Linked DNA regions of Homo sapiens: region 1 is linked to region 2. The links come from fine-mapping of genetic effects on gene expression. A gene starts in region 2. The other region holds a variant in brackets. All regions are shown on one strand. Distances are between the middles of the regions.

Region 1 (5,312 bases), 33 kb before region 2:
TCAAGATTAAACTTACTAATGTAGCCCTTCCCACACTTCTGACATTTATACAGTTCTTCTTCTCTATAGGCTCTCTGATGTGAATGGCCCTGTGAATTCATATAAAATCTCTTCCCACATCCGTCGCACTTGAATGTTGTTTCTCCATTGTGGACCCGCTGATGTCTTGAAAGACATGAGGACCACCTGAAGCCCTTCCCACATACATTACAATTATATGGTTTGTCTCCTGTATGGTCCATCTGATGCTTACAAAGATCTTGCCTACAAGTGAAGCTCCTTCCACATTCTTCACATTTGTATAGTTTCTCTTTTGTGTGGTCCATGCAATGACTATTAAGTGCTGATCTCTGACCAAAGCTATTACTACAGGTATCACATCTAAATGATTTCTCTTGCATGTGGACCATGGAATGCCTATTAAGATTTGATCTACTATGGAAGCTCTTACCACATATATAACATTTGAATGGCTTCTCCCCAGTATGGATTCTTTGATGTTCCCGAAGCTGGGAATTGTGAATGAAGGCCTTCCCACATTCCTCACAAATATGAGGTTTTTCTCCTGTGTGTAATTTGCAATGAACATACATTCCTGATCTACGGCTGAAACTTTTCCCACACTGCTCACATTTGAATGGTTTCTCTCCAGTGTGGATTCTCTGATGAGTTTGCAGTTGTGAGTTCTGACTAAATGCCTTACTACACACATCACACTTATAGCGTTTCTCTCCCATGTGAACTTTCTGATGAAGACAAAGAGCTGAGCTATAACAGAATCTCTTCCTGTACTCATTACATGTATGGGATATCTTTCCTGAGTGTAATTGTTGATGAAGATCAAGGATGGAGACATCACTGAAGAATTTTTTACACTTCCCATGCTCAGAAGGTGTCTCTCCTATGTGAATTATAGATAGTCCTGCGTCAACCTGGGAGGGGACATCACCTTGTGTGGAGAACTGAGAGCTACTTATGGAGTCTTGAGGTCTAGTTAACTCACTTGCAGTTTGTTCCCAGATTTGCTGGCAAGACCACTCTTCATGTGGTCCTGTTTCTGGAACAGACTCCAACTCAGTTTGGATCTTGCCTCCTATAAGGACACAGAATTAAGAGATGTGGGTAAGTGAAACCTTTGTTCAGTGTTTTCAGGATTTCACTTAGGACATGGCCTGAAACTTTACTGAATACAAGGAAGGTACAGTTTGTGTTTTCCAAGTGCACCACGGTCTCTCGTTGTCACGAAACCAATTTTGAATGACATAATGTCTCATACGTGGTAGAAATGAAAGACTTAATTTAAAATATTAATATAATACAGTTAATGTGTTACTATTTCTACCAATTTCCTAGTTAGTCTAAAATCTTGCATGGTATATTATGTAACTACTAAATTATATATGTGATGAATCAGAAGGAACGTTAAGGGTAGGAGGACTTCAAGATGGCTGACTAAAGACACCCAGAGCTTGCGTCCTCCACAAAGAGCCAAAATAATGAGTAGTGCTCACTTCAGCAGCACATATGGTAAAACTGGAATGATCAGCCCCTGCACAAGGCCGATATGCAAATTCATGAAGTGTTCTATATATTTTATTACTAAAAAATTTAAAAAGCAAATAGATACTCATACATCAAATAGCATCTAAGAGGGATCACTGGAATTCAGCAGAGAAGTGACAGGAAACACCCGAAGCACAAAAGGAGAGCGAAGGGAGGTAGCCCTTCTGGCCGTGATCACCTGAAAGCCGGGAAAGGCTCCTAGTGCTGGGAAAGGGTAAGTGAGAGAGCCCTAGTGGTTTACATTTCCGCTGTGCACTCCAGCAATCAGCCATGAGAGAGGCCCTCGACCCCTGTGGGCCCTGAGACTAGCACAGGGGGCTACCTGGAGTCCATGCAATGGCACTCAGAGAGGGTACTCATGATGGGACCCACACACTTCC[T/C]GAGACTCAAGCAGCTATGGCACAGCGCTATTTTGAGAGCTGCACCCCCACCAGACTGCATCTTGCCCTGGGGCCCAACAGCCTTTGCATCTCCAAATCCCTGAAGCCCCATGGACATGCCCCCACATCCACCCAGAGGGTTACAATAATGCCTGTTAGACCCAGCAGTATGGCAGAGTCCCCAGCAATCTAGGCCACATAGTGTCCCATACTCTAGGGAATGGGCCGTGAAGGACACCAGGGAGGCTGCCCCCAGTACAGTACAAAGGGACCCAAAGTGTGTGCACTCACCAGAGCTTGAAAGCTGCCTGTCTGGGGCTGCTGCCTCTAACGGCAATGCTACCTCACCCCCAGCAGCAGGGCCACTGTACACTCATATGTGTTCTCATTCTGAGGAAAGTTTCTCTGCACACTCTGCCACTGCCACCCAAGCACACCTCCTAAAGGCATGGGGAGTCCCTTGCACTGCCCACCACAACCTGTGCCCGTGCACAGGACAAGCCCACTTCACTTGGTACCGCCCATCTCAGTGCCAGAGCATGACACAGAGGGACCTGGGGATTGCTCTACCCTGTGTTGCCTCAGGCACATGTGTGCACAAACAGGAGACCTGACAAAGACCCAGCTTGTGTGCTGCCAGTGCTGGAGCATGCCATCTGGGGACCTAGGGATCACGCCGCCTCTTCCACCACAGCCTACATCTGCCTGCACCACTGAAAGGCCTGAGGACAGGCTCACCTGGCCTGGCGTCATTCCTCCACTACCTAAGCATACCACCTGGGGCTGTTGAGATCACCCTGCCATGTTGGTTGCCCCAGGCATGAGCATGTACCATGCAGGGAGCTTTACAACAGACCCAGAACCCTGCCGCAGGTGCCCAAGCATGCTGTCTGGAGACCTAAGGATTTCCCTGCCCTGATCACCACCACTGGCATCTGTATACTCCTCCTAGTGACCTGAGGACAGGTCCTACAAGCCTGCTGCCACCATCACCGCTGACACTCACCTGCACACACCATGTGGGGGCCTCAGGACTGGCCCACCCAGCCCATCACCACTACCTCTAACACCGGTACACATAGCCTTAAAACCTGAGGGTTATCCTGCCACCACTATTGGGTACTATGCTCAGTACCTGGGTGACAGGATCATTTGCAATGCAAACCTCAGCATCACACAATATACCCAGGTAACAAACCTGCACATGTACCCCCTGAATCTTAAAATAAAAATTGAACAGCTAAAAGTCCTCCTCTTAAGACATTCCATTCCAGTGGGTAGAGATGACAGCTAAATAGAAATATATAAGACACAGTATAAGACAACACCAGAAGGGTAAAGATAGGATGGTATTCCATTCCCTCTCTCTCTCTCTCTCTCTCTCTCTCTATATATATATATATATATATATATTTCTTTATTTATTTTTTGAGACAGAGTCTCATTCTGTCACCCAGGCTAGAGTGTAGTGGCACAATCCCAGCTCACTACAACCTCTGGCTCCTGGGTTCAAGTGATTCTCACGCCTCAGCCACCCGAGTAGCTGGGATTACAGGACTGTGCTACCACACCCAGCTAATTTTTATATTTTTAGTAGAGTCAGGTTTTGCCATGCTGGCCAGGCTGGTCTCAAACTCCTGGCCTCATGCTATCTGCCTGCCTCAGCCTCCCAAAGTGCTGGGATTACAGGCATGAGCCACCACGCCCGGCTGGTATTTTAAATAGAGTGGTCAGAGAAGGCCTTTCTCATGATATTAAAACTGAACAGAGACCAGAATAAAGGAAGGGTCAGAAGGTCTTGAGGTGAAAGAGTATTCCAATCAGAAAGAAGAGCATATATAAACTCTAAGACAGAAGCTTCTGTAGTAGACAGAACAATGGTCCTTGAAAGATGTCCACATCCAATTCCCAGGACCTATGAACCTGTTATGTTATATAGCAAGAGATATTAAGGCTGCAGATGCAATTAAGGTCACTAGTCAGCTAAAGAGAGAGTAAGAAGGTCATTCTAGATTATGCAGGAGTGACCAATCCAATCGCAAGGGACCCAAAATGTGGAAAACAGAGGCTTAAGAAGGGTGGCAGATGACTATGGAAGAATGGTTAGAGATGCAATGTAGCTGCTTTTGAAGATGGAGGAAGGGAGACAAGAGCCAAGGAGTGTGGACAGTGCCTAGGGATTGGTAAATTAAAGTGAAGGCTTCTCCCCAAGAACATCTAGACAGGAACAAAGCCCTAGGGACACCCTGATTTTTGTCCAGTGAGATGTGTCAGACTTCAGATCTGAAGAACAGAAAGATAATTGTTTGTTGTTTAATCTGCTAAGTGTGTGGTCACTGGGTGACAGCAACAGGCAATACAGTGTCCTTGGCAGGATGGAGAAACAGCAGGGAGTACAACGTGGCTGGAAAATGGAGATGTAGTCAGAGAGGCAGTAGGGGATGAAGAGCAGATCAAGGGTCTCTAAAAGGCACTTAAAGCAGTTGTAACATTAACACAAATAAGAAGCCATAAAGGCTTTTAAGCTGAGGAATGGCAATCTGACTTACATTCCCTAAGGATCACTTTGGCTGCTATGAGGAAAACAGATGTCAGGGTGGGAAGAGGGGGTGGGGGAGCAGGACAACCAGCAGGAAGGAGGTAAGAATCCAGGAAACAGGTTTGGCCATTTATACCAGGGCAATGGAGTTGGGCAATGGACAGAAGTAAAACAGATGGAAGGGTCACGTACAAGGATGCATCGTTGCTTGGTTCTTACCTGAATTCCCTTCTCTTTGGGTTGCTGTCTCCATGATCCAAAACTTTTCTTCTCTTTGGAAGTGAAAAGTATCTCGGTGGGAAAGTTGATGCCCTGTGAACAAAGTCACATGCTTAATCCCAATACATCTTAGGTAAAATTTACTAGAAATTTAGGTTCTCACTGCACACTCGAACTTGAACACTGATATGGTTTGGCGGTGTCCCCAAATCTCATCTTGAATTGTAGTTCCCATAATCCCCACATGTCATAAGAGGGAGCTGGTGGGAGGTAATTAAATCATGGGGGCAGTTTCCTCCATGCTGTTCTCGTGATAGTGGATGAGTTCTCACGAGATCTGATGGTTTTATTTTATTTATGTTTTTTGTTTTTGTTTTTGTTTTTGTTTTTTTTTGAGACGGAGTCTCGCTCTGTCGCCCAGGCTGGAGTGCAGTGATGCGATCTCGGCTCACTGCAAGCTCCGCCTCCCAGGTTCACGCCATTTACCCGCCTCAGCCTCCTGAGTAGCTGGGACTACAGACGCCCGCCACCACGCCCGGCAATTTTTTTTGTATTTTTAGTAGAGACGGGGTTTCACCGTGTTAGCCAGAATGGTCTCCATCTCCCAACCT
Region 2 (5,402 bases):
CCAGCCTGGGTGACAAGAGCAAAACTGTCTCAAACAAAAAAAAAAAAAAAGAAAAGGGCATCTTAACACTCCTGTGGAATCCCCACCAACAATGTATAATCTAAACCTAAATGTGAAATATATCTGTAGGGGAAAGAAAAAGAGATCAGGCTGTTACTGTGTCTACGTAGAAAAAGGAAGACATGAGAAACTCCATTTTGATCTGTACTAAGAAAAATTCTTCTGCCTTGAGATGCTGTTAATCTGTAACCCTAGCCCCAACCCTGTGCTCGCAGAAACATGTGTTGTATTGACTCAAGGTTTAATGGATTTAGGGCTGTGCAGGATGTGCTTTGGTAAAAATGTGTTTGCAGGCAGTATGCTTGGTAAAAGTCATTGCCATTCTCCAGTCTCGATTAACCAGGGACACCATACACTGCGGAAGGCCACAGGGACCTCTGCCCAAGAAAGCCTGGGCATTGTCCAAGGTTTCCACCCACTGAGACAGCCTGAGAGATGGCCTCGTGGGAAGGGAAAGACCTGACCGTCCCCCAGCCCGACACCCATAAGGGGTCTGTGCTGAGGAGGATTAGTGAAAGAGGAAGGCCTCTTTGCAGTTGAGGTAAGAGGAAGGCATCTGTCTCCTGCTCATCCCTGGGAATGGAATGTCTCGGTATAAAACCCAATCGTACATTCTATTTACTGAGATAGGAGAAAACCGCCTTATGGCTGGAGGTGAGACATACTGGCGGCAATACTGGTCTTTACTGCACTGAGATGTTTGTGTAAAGTCACACATAAATCTGGCCTATGTGCACATCCAGGCACAACTCCTTTCCTTAAACTTATTTATGACAGAGTCCTTTGCTCACATGTTTTCCGGCTGACCCTCTCCCCACCATTACCCTATAGTCCTTCCACATCCCCCTCACCAAGATAGTAGAGATAGTGATCAATAAATACTGAGGGAACTCAGAGACCAGTGCCGGTACAGGTCCTCATTTGCTGAGCGCCGGTCCCCTGGGCCCACTTTTCTTCCTCTATACTTTGTGTCTGTGTCTTATTTCTTTTCTCAGTTTCTCATTTCCACCTTGTGAGAAACACCCACAGGTGTGGAGAGGCAGGCCCCCTTCAATATCAAACTCCAAATGAACAACTATGGAAATGTGACAGCTAAAGACAACGCATAAACTGGACTTTGAATAGGTGAAGGGTGGGGCAGAGGACAGTCATAAGGACTTTAAATGAAAAATTTAACAAATTCGTATATGGAACTGCAGATTAGATAACATGATGCTAGGTAATATGCTATCCAACACTATCTAGTAAGTACACTACAAATACTAGTATTCTTTTAACACATCTATCTGACATGTAATCGGTAACAGTATTATTTAACATAATATCCAATATTATCTACCATGTTATGTGAAACCCTATAACCAGCCCTTCCTAAATGCCTCTTACCAAGACACCCCACAATTACCGTGGTATGTGGGCTTCCTTGCTGCAGAAAGCTACCAATCAGCTGTCTCTGGTTACAGGTATGTTCCTGGTGGTATTTGGTTGATGGTCATCAACAAAGCAAACAGGAAAAATGTAAACACTTGGCAAATTTGGGTAAAGGGTATATGAGAATTTCTTATACTGTTTTTGCAATTTTTCTATAGCTTTGAAATGATATCAAACGTTTTAAAATATCAGGCAACAAGAGACCACTCACCAAGTGACAGGGACAACTTTAAGGCTTTCATTTGTATTATCTCTTTCAATTCGCAAAACAATTCTATTAGGATGACCCTATAAGCACCATTTTAAAGAACAGCAATGGGAAGTACAGAGACATTAACATTCCACATCACACTGCGAGAAAGAGTGTACACACTGCATACGTAGGGAGGCGGACTGAGCGAGGTCAAAGTCCTGGAAACCCTCAGAGCAGGGCACACAAGGCCACCCCAATCCCACCCCCCGGGAGGCGAGCAAAGCCCCCCGACGCCAGAAGGCTCCGCTGACGGGAACAATAAACACCCTCCCCGCCCTCGCACCTCTAAACCTCTGCTCTTCGCCAAGGCTTCTTTTCCCCTGAGACGATCATCGATCATCGGGTGGTTGCGAGCCTCAAGCAAAGGGGGTTCGTTCAAAATGTCCTGCAAGACGCAGAAATGGCTCAAACTACCCCGGTCATTAAAGCAGGAACCTCAGACTAGGAGACCGGAAGTGTCCTCTCTGCGCCAGAGTGTCTGGACTCCACTCCCCAGAATTCCCCGGACCCGCCCCCCTGAGCCAAAGGGCCCGGGACTCCGCAGAGTGTCTGGACTATCGTTCCCAGAATTCAACGGTTCACCTGCCAGAGCCAAAATACCCAGTGTTCCACGAGCCAGTGGACTACACTTCCCGTAAAATGGACTACTCTTCCCAGAATTCTCCGGAAACGCCTACCTGAGCTGAAGTATCAGGAATCCCGCAAGGTGTCTGGACTGCAGAGCCTCAGATGCAAAAGGAAAATGTCCATCACCTCACCCTTTAGGCTCAAGTGTTGCGACTACATGGTGCTCCTCGATTACACTTCCCGCAACACCCACGGGGAACGAATTTCATAGCCCCAGGTTCCTGGTGGGGAATGCAGACTGTTACCCTGACAGTTGTCCTTCCCAGAGTCCTCGAGCGAAAATATTGAATAGAAAGAATTTATGAAGTCTAAATGTCTCCCATGATTGACAGGAGTGTTCTTGGACAGGGAACAAGCGAGGAGATACAATATTCAAGGAGCTAGATAGAGTGACTGTTGAGCCGTCAGATGGCTGAAAGGAGGCTCAGGGTTTAAAGCAAGGATATCCAACTCCAGGGCCACAGACCTGTACCGGTCCACTGACTGTTAGGAACCGGGCGGCACAGCAGGAAGTGAGCGGCAGGTGAGGGAGCATTATGGCCTGAGCTCCACCTCCTGTGAGATCAGCCCAGCATTACATTCTCATAGGAGCGCGGATCCTATTGTGAACTGTGCGTGCGAAGGATCTAGGTCAGGCGCTCCTTATGAGAATCTAATGGCTGAGGTGGAACAGTTTCATCCCGAAACCATTCCCCAGTCCGTGGAAAAATTGTCTTCCACAAAACCGGTCCATGGTGCTAAAACGGTTGGGGACCACTGGTTTAAAGAATGAGCCAGGTAGAATGGGTTGGGAGGGGCAATGAGAAGCCAGGAAAGCATCAGCCCCTGTAACTGAAAAGTAGATCAGTGGCTTCCCGTTTGCAACGTCCAGTTAACAAGAGGGAGATCTGGTATAAAGAAAGTGATTTATTCTAGAGCTAGCGTAGGGGAAGTAGCACAGGTGTTGTCTTTAAGTGCACGGCTTGGCTTTTAGAGCAGAAAGCAGGCACTTTTAAAAGGTAGGGGAGGAAGAGGGAAGGGGTCTGTGTGCTGGCTTGGTGCCTTATCTATTAGGCAGTTGAGCTGGCTTTTTCATGGGCAGAAATAAGTTGTAACCAGAAGGGAGAGAGTAGCAGGCACGCTTTCAACTGTTGTCTCTTCAGGCAACCTCCTGGTGAGTGAGAGTTCAGAGGCCAGCATGCTTTAGTTTGTAAATTGACTGTTAATTCTGGAGGAGAGTTCTGGCTTGGAGCACACAGTTAGATGAACTTTCCCTGTAGGAAGTGTCTGGTGAAGGGGAGGTAAAAGTCTATATTTGCATTTTTAAAGGGCTACATAGGAAGTGGGGAACTAAGGGAATGAGAAAAGAGAGAGAAATAAATAAGCTGTCTCTTAGAAAAATGGTGGTTCTCAGTTACAGCCCTAGTCCAGATGCTGTGGTACCACTGGTTTGACAGGAAAAACAAAATTCCAGCCACCAATGGAGAAGCTGTGTCCTCATGGAAAAGCTACATTTAACATTCTCATGGTAGTAATATTTCTACTTTAGATGTAGAAACGCTAAATTTCAGAGAAGTTAGTGAATTGCTAAGTATCTTAAAGCAAGTATAACTGTTGAAGAGCTTGGCATTGGTATCAATCTGACACCCAATGTCTGATTCAATGCCATAAAACTGGAGAAGATTCTATAGGTGACGGAGCATGATTTATTATTAAGAGTTTCTTCCTTTCCATTTCTTGGTTAAAATATCTTCATTATAGGAAACAATTTGAAAACTGGCATATGTTAGTTGAAAGACATTAATAATAGTATAAAGCTAAATCAGGAAACAATTCATCTAAAATTCTCTTTTGAAGATAAACCATATTTTTTGTCCTCCCAAATAAACATACATTGACCTGTCGACCTATATTTTTCTTTTTAAAAAGAGTCTAATGTCCTGTATCCATTTTCCTAAAGTAAAAAAAAATAAAAAAAAATTAAAAAAAGACTGTTCACAATTTTTTTTTGATACAGAGTCTTGCTGTTTTGCCCAGGCCAGAGTGCAGTGCGCGATCTCGGCTCACTGCAACCTCTGCTTCCTGGGTTCAAGTGATTCTCCTGCCTCAGCCTCCCAAGTAGCTGGGACTACAGGCATGTGCCACTACGCCTGGCTAATTTTTTGTATTTTTAGTAGAGATGGGGGTTTCACTGTGTTAGCCAGGATGGTCTCAATCTCCTGACCTCGTGATCTGCCCACCTTGGCCTCCCAAAGTGCTGGGATTACAGGTGTGAGCCACTGCACCTGGCTGACGTTTCACAGTTTGGTTTGGACAAAAATTAAGGTGACTGAGCAACCACATAGTGCCAAACAAATTTTCAATGCCCCCTTGAAAATTGAGTGATGGCTATTCCTATACCAATTACAGCTGTATCCTTACTCTACTCTGCATTCACAAAAGATAAAATTTATTGATACTCTCAGTGGTAGTGTATGCAAGGAGCTGAGCCTGAGATGTTAGGCGGCACCTGGCATCAAAGGTCCCTGCTGTTGCCCACGTCCCTGTGCTCTGGGCCTCTGATGGGAGGAGCAGCCTCCAAGATCTGTGAAATACTTCTGGGGTCATTCTTCCATTGTCTTGGACAATAGGTCCTGGTTTGAGTCAACATGGTCAATCCATACTAATCTCATAAATCAGTTGTTCAGCCACACCCTTGTTTTCTCCAGGACAGGGTTTTGCATGTTTTCCAAAGTAGATAAGCTGCAAATTTTAAAAGTATTTAGTTCTCTTTACCTTTTAATTAGTAATTCCGGCTTTCAGTCACTTCTCACTTTCTACATTTTACTATAGGTAGTCAAGATTATTCAAGATGCAACTTCAACACATTGTTAAGAAATAGTGTCAGCTAAATATTCAATTACATTGCTCACAAGTTCTACCTACCAAAAAACACTAGGACCTGAATATAATTCAGCCAAATTATTTACCCCTTTATAACAAGAACCCCGCTTTCTTCAGTTTCCAGTAACATGTTCCACATTTCTGACTGAGGTCTCATCATAATGGCCTT

The links. PIP is the estimated chance that this variant, and not a neighbour inherited with it, causes the effect.
Region 1: its variant is fine-mapped to the expression of ZNF223 in whole blood (TOPMed, PIP above 0.99).

The regions. Positions count from the first base shown.
Region 1 is chr19:44,081,495-44,086,806 of GRCh38, reverse strand. ZNF284 (zinc finger protein 284) reads right to left here. Exons shown (of 5, transcript NM_001037813.4): 4 at 4,702-4,794; 5 at 1-1,093. It also overlaps the pseudogene RNU6-902P. Among named protein-coding and RNA genes, the nearest start is that of ZNF224, 10 kb to the left of the region's middle. The variant T/C (reference allele first, on the strand shown) is at 1,944.
Region 2 is chr19:44,048,821-44,054,222 of GRCh38, reverse strand. ZNF223 (zinc finger protein 223) reads right to left here and starts at 2,187. Exons shown (of 5, transcript NM_013361.6): 1 at 2,028-2,187. RefSeq lists enhancers at 1,961-2,200, 2,020-2,521 and a silencer at 2,241-2,300.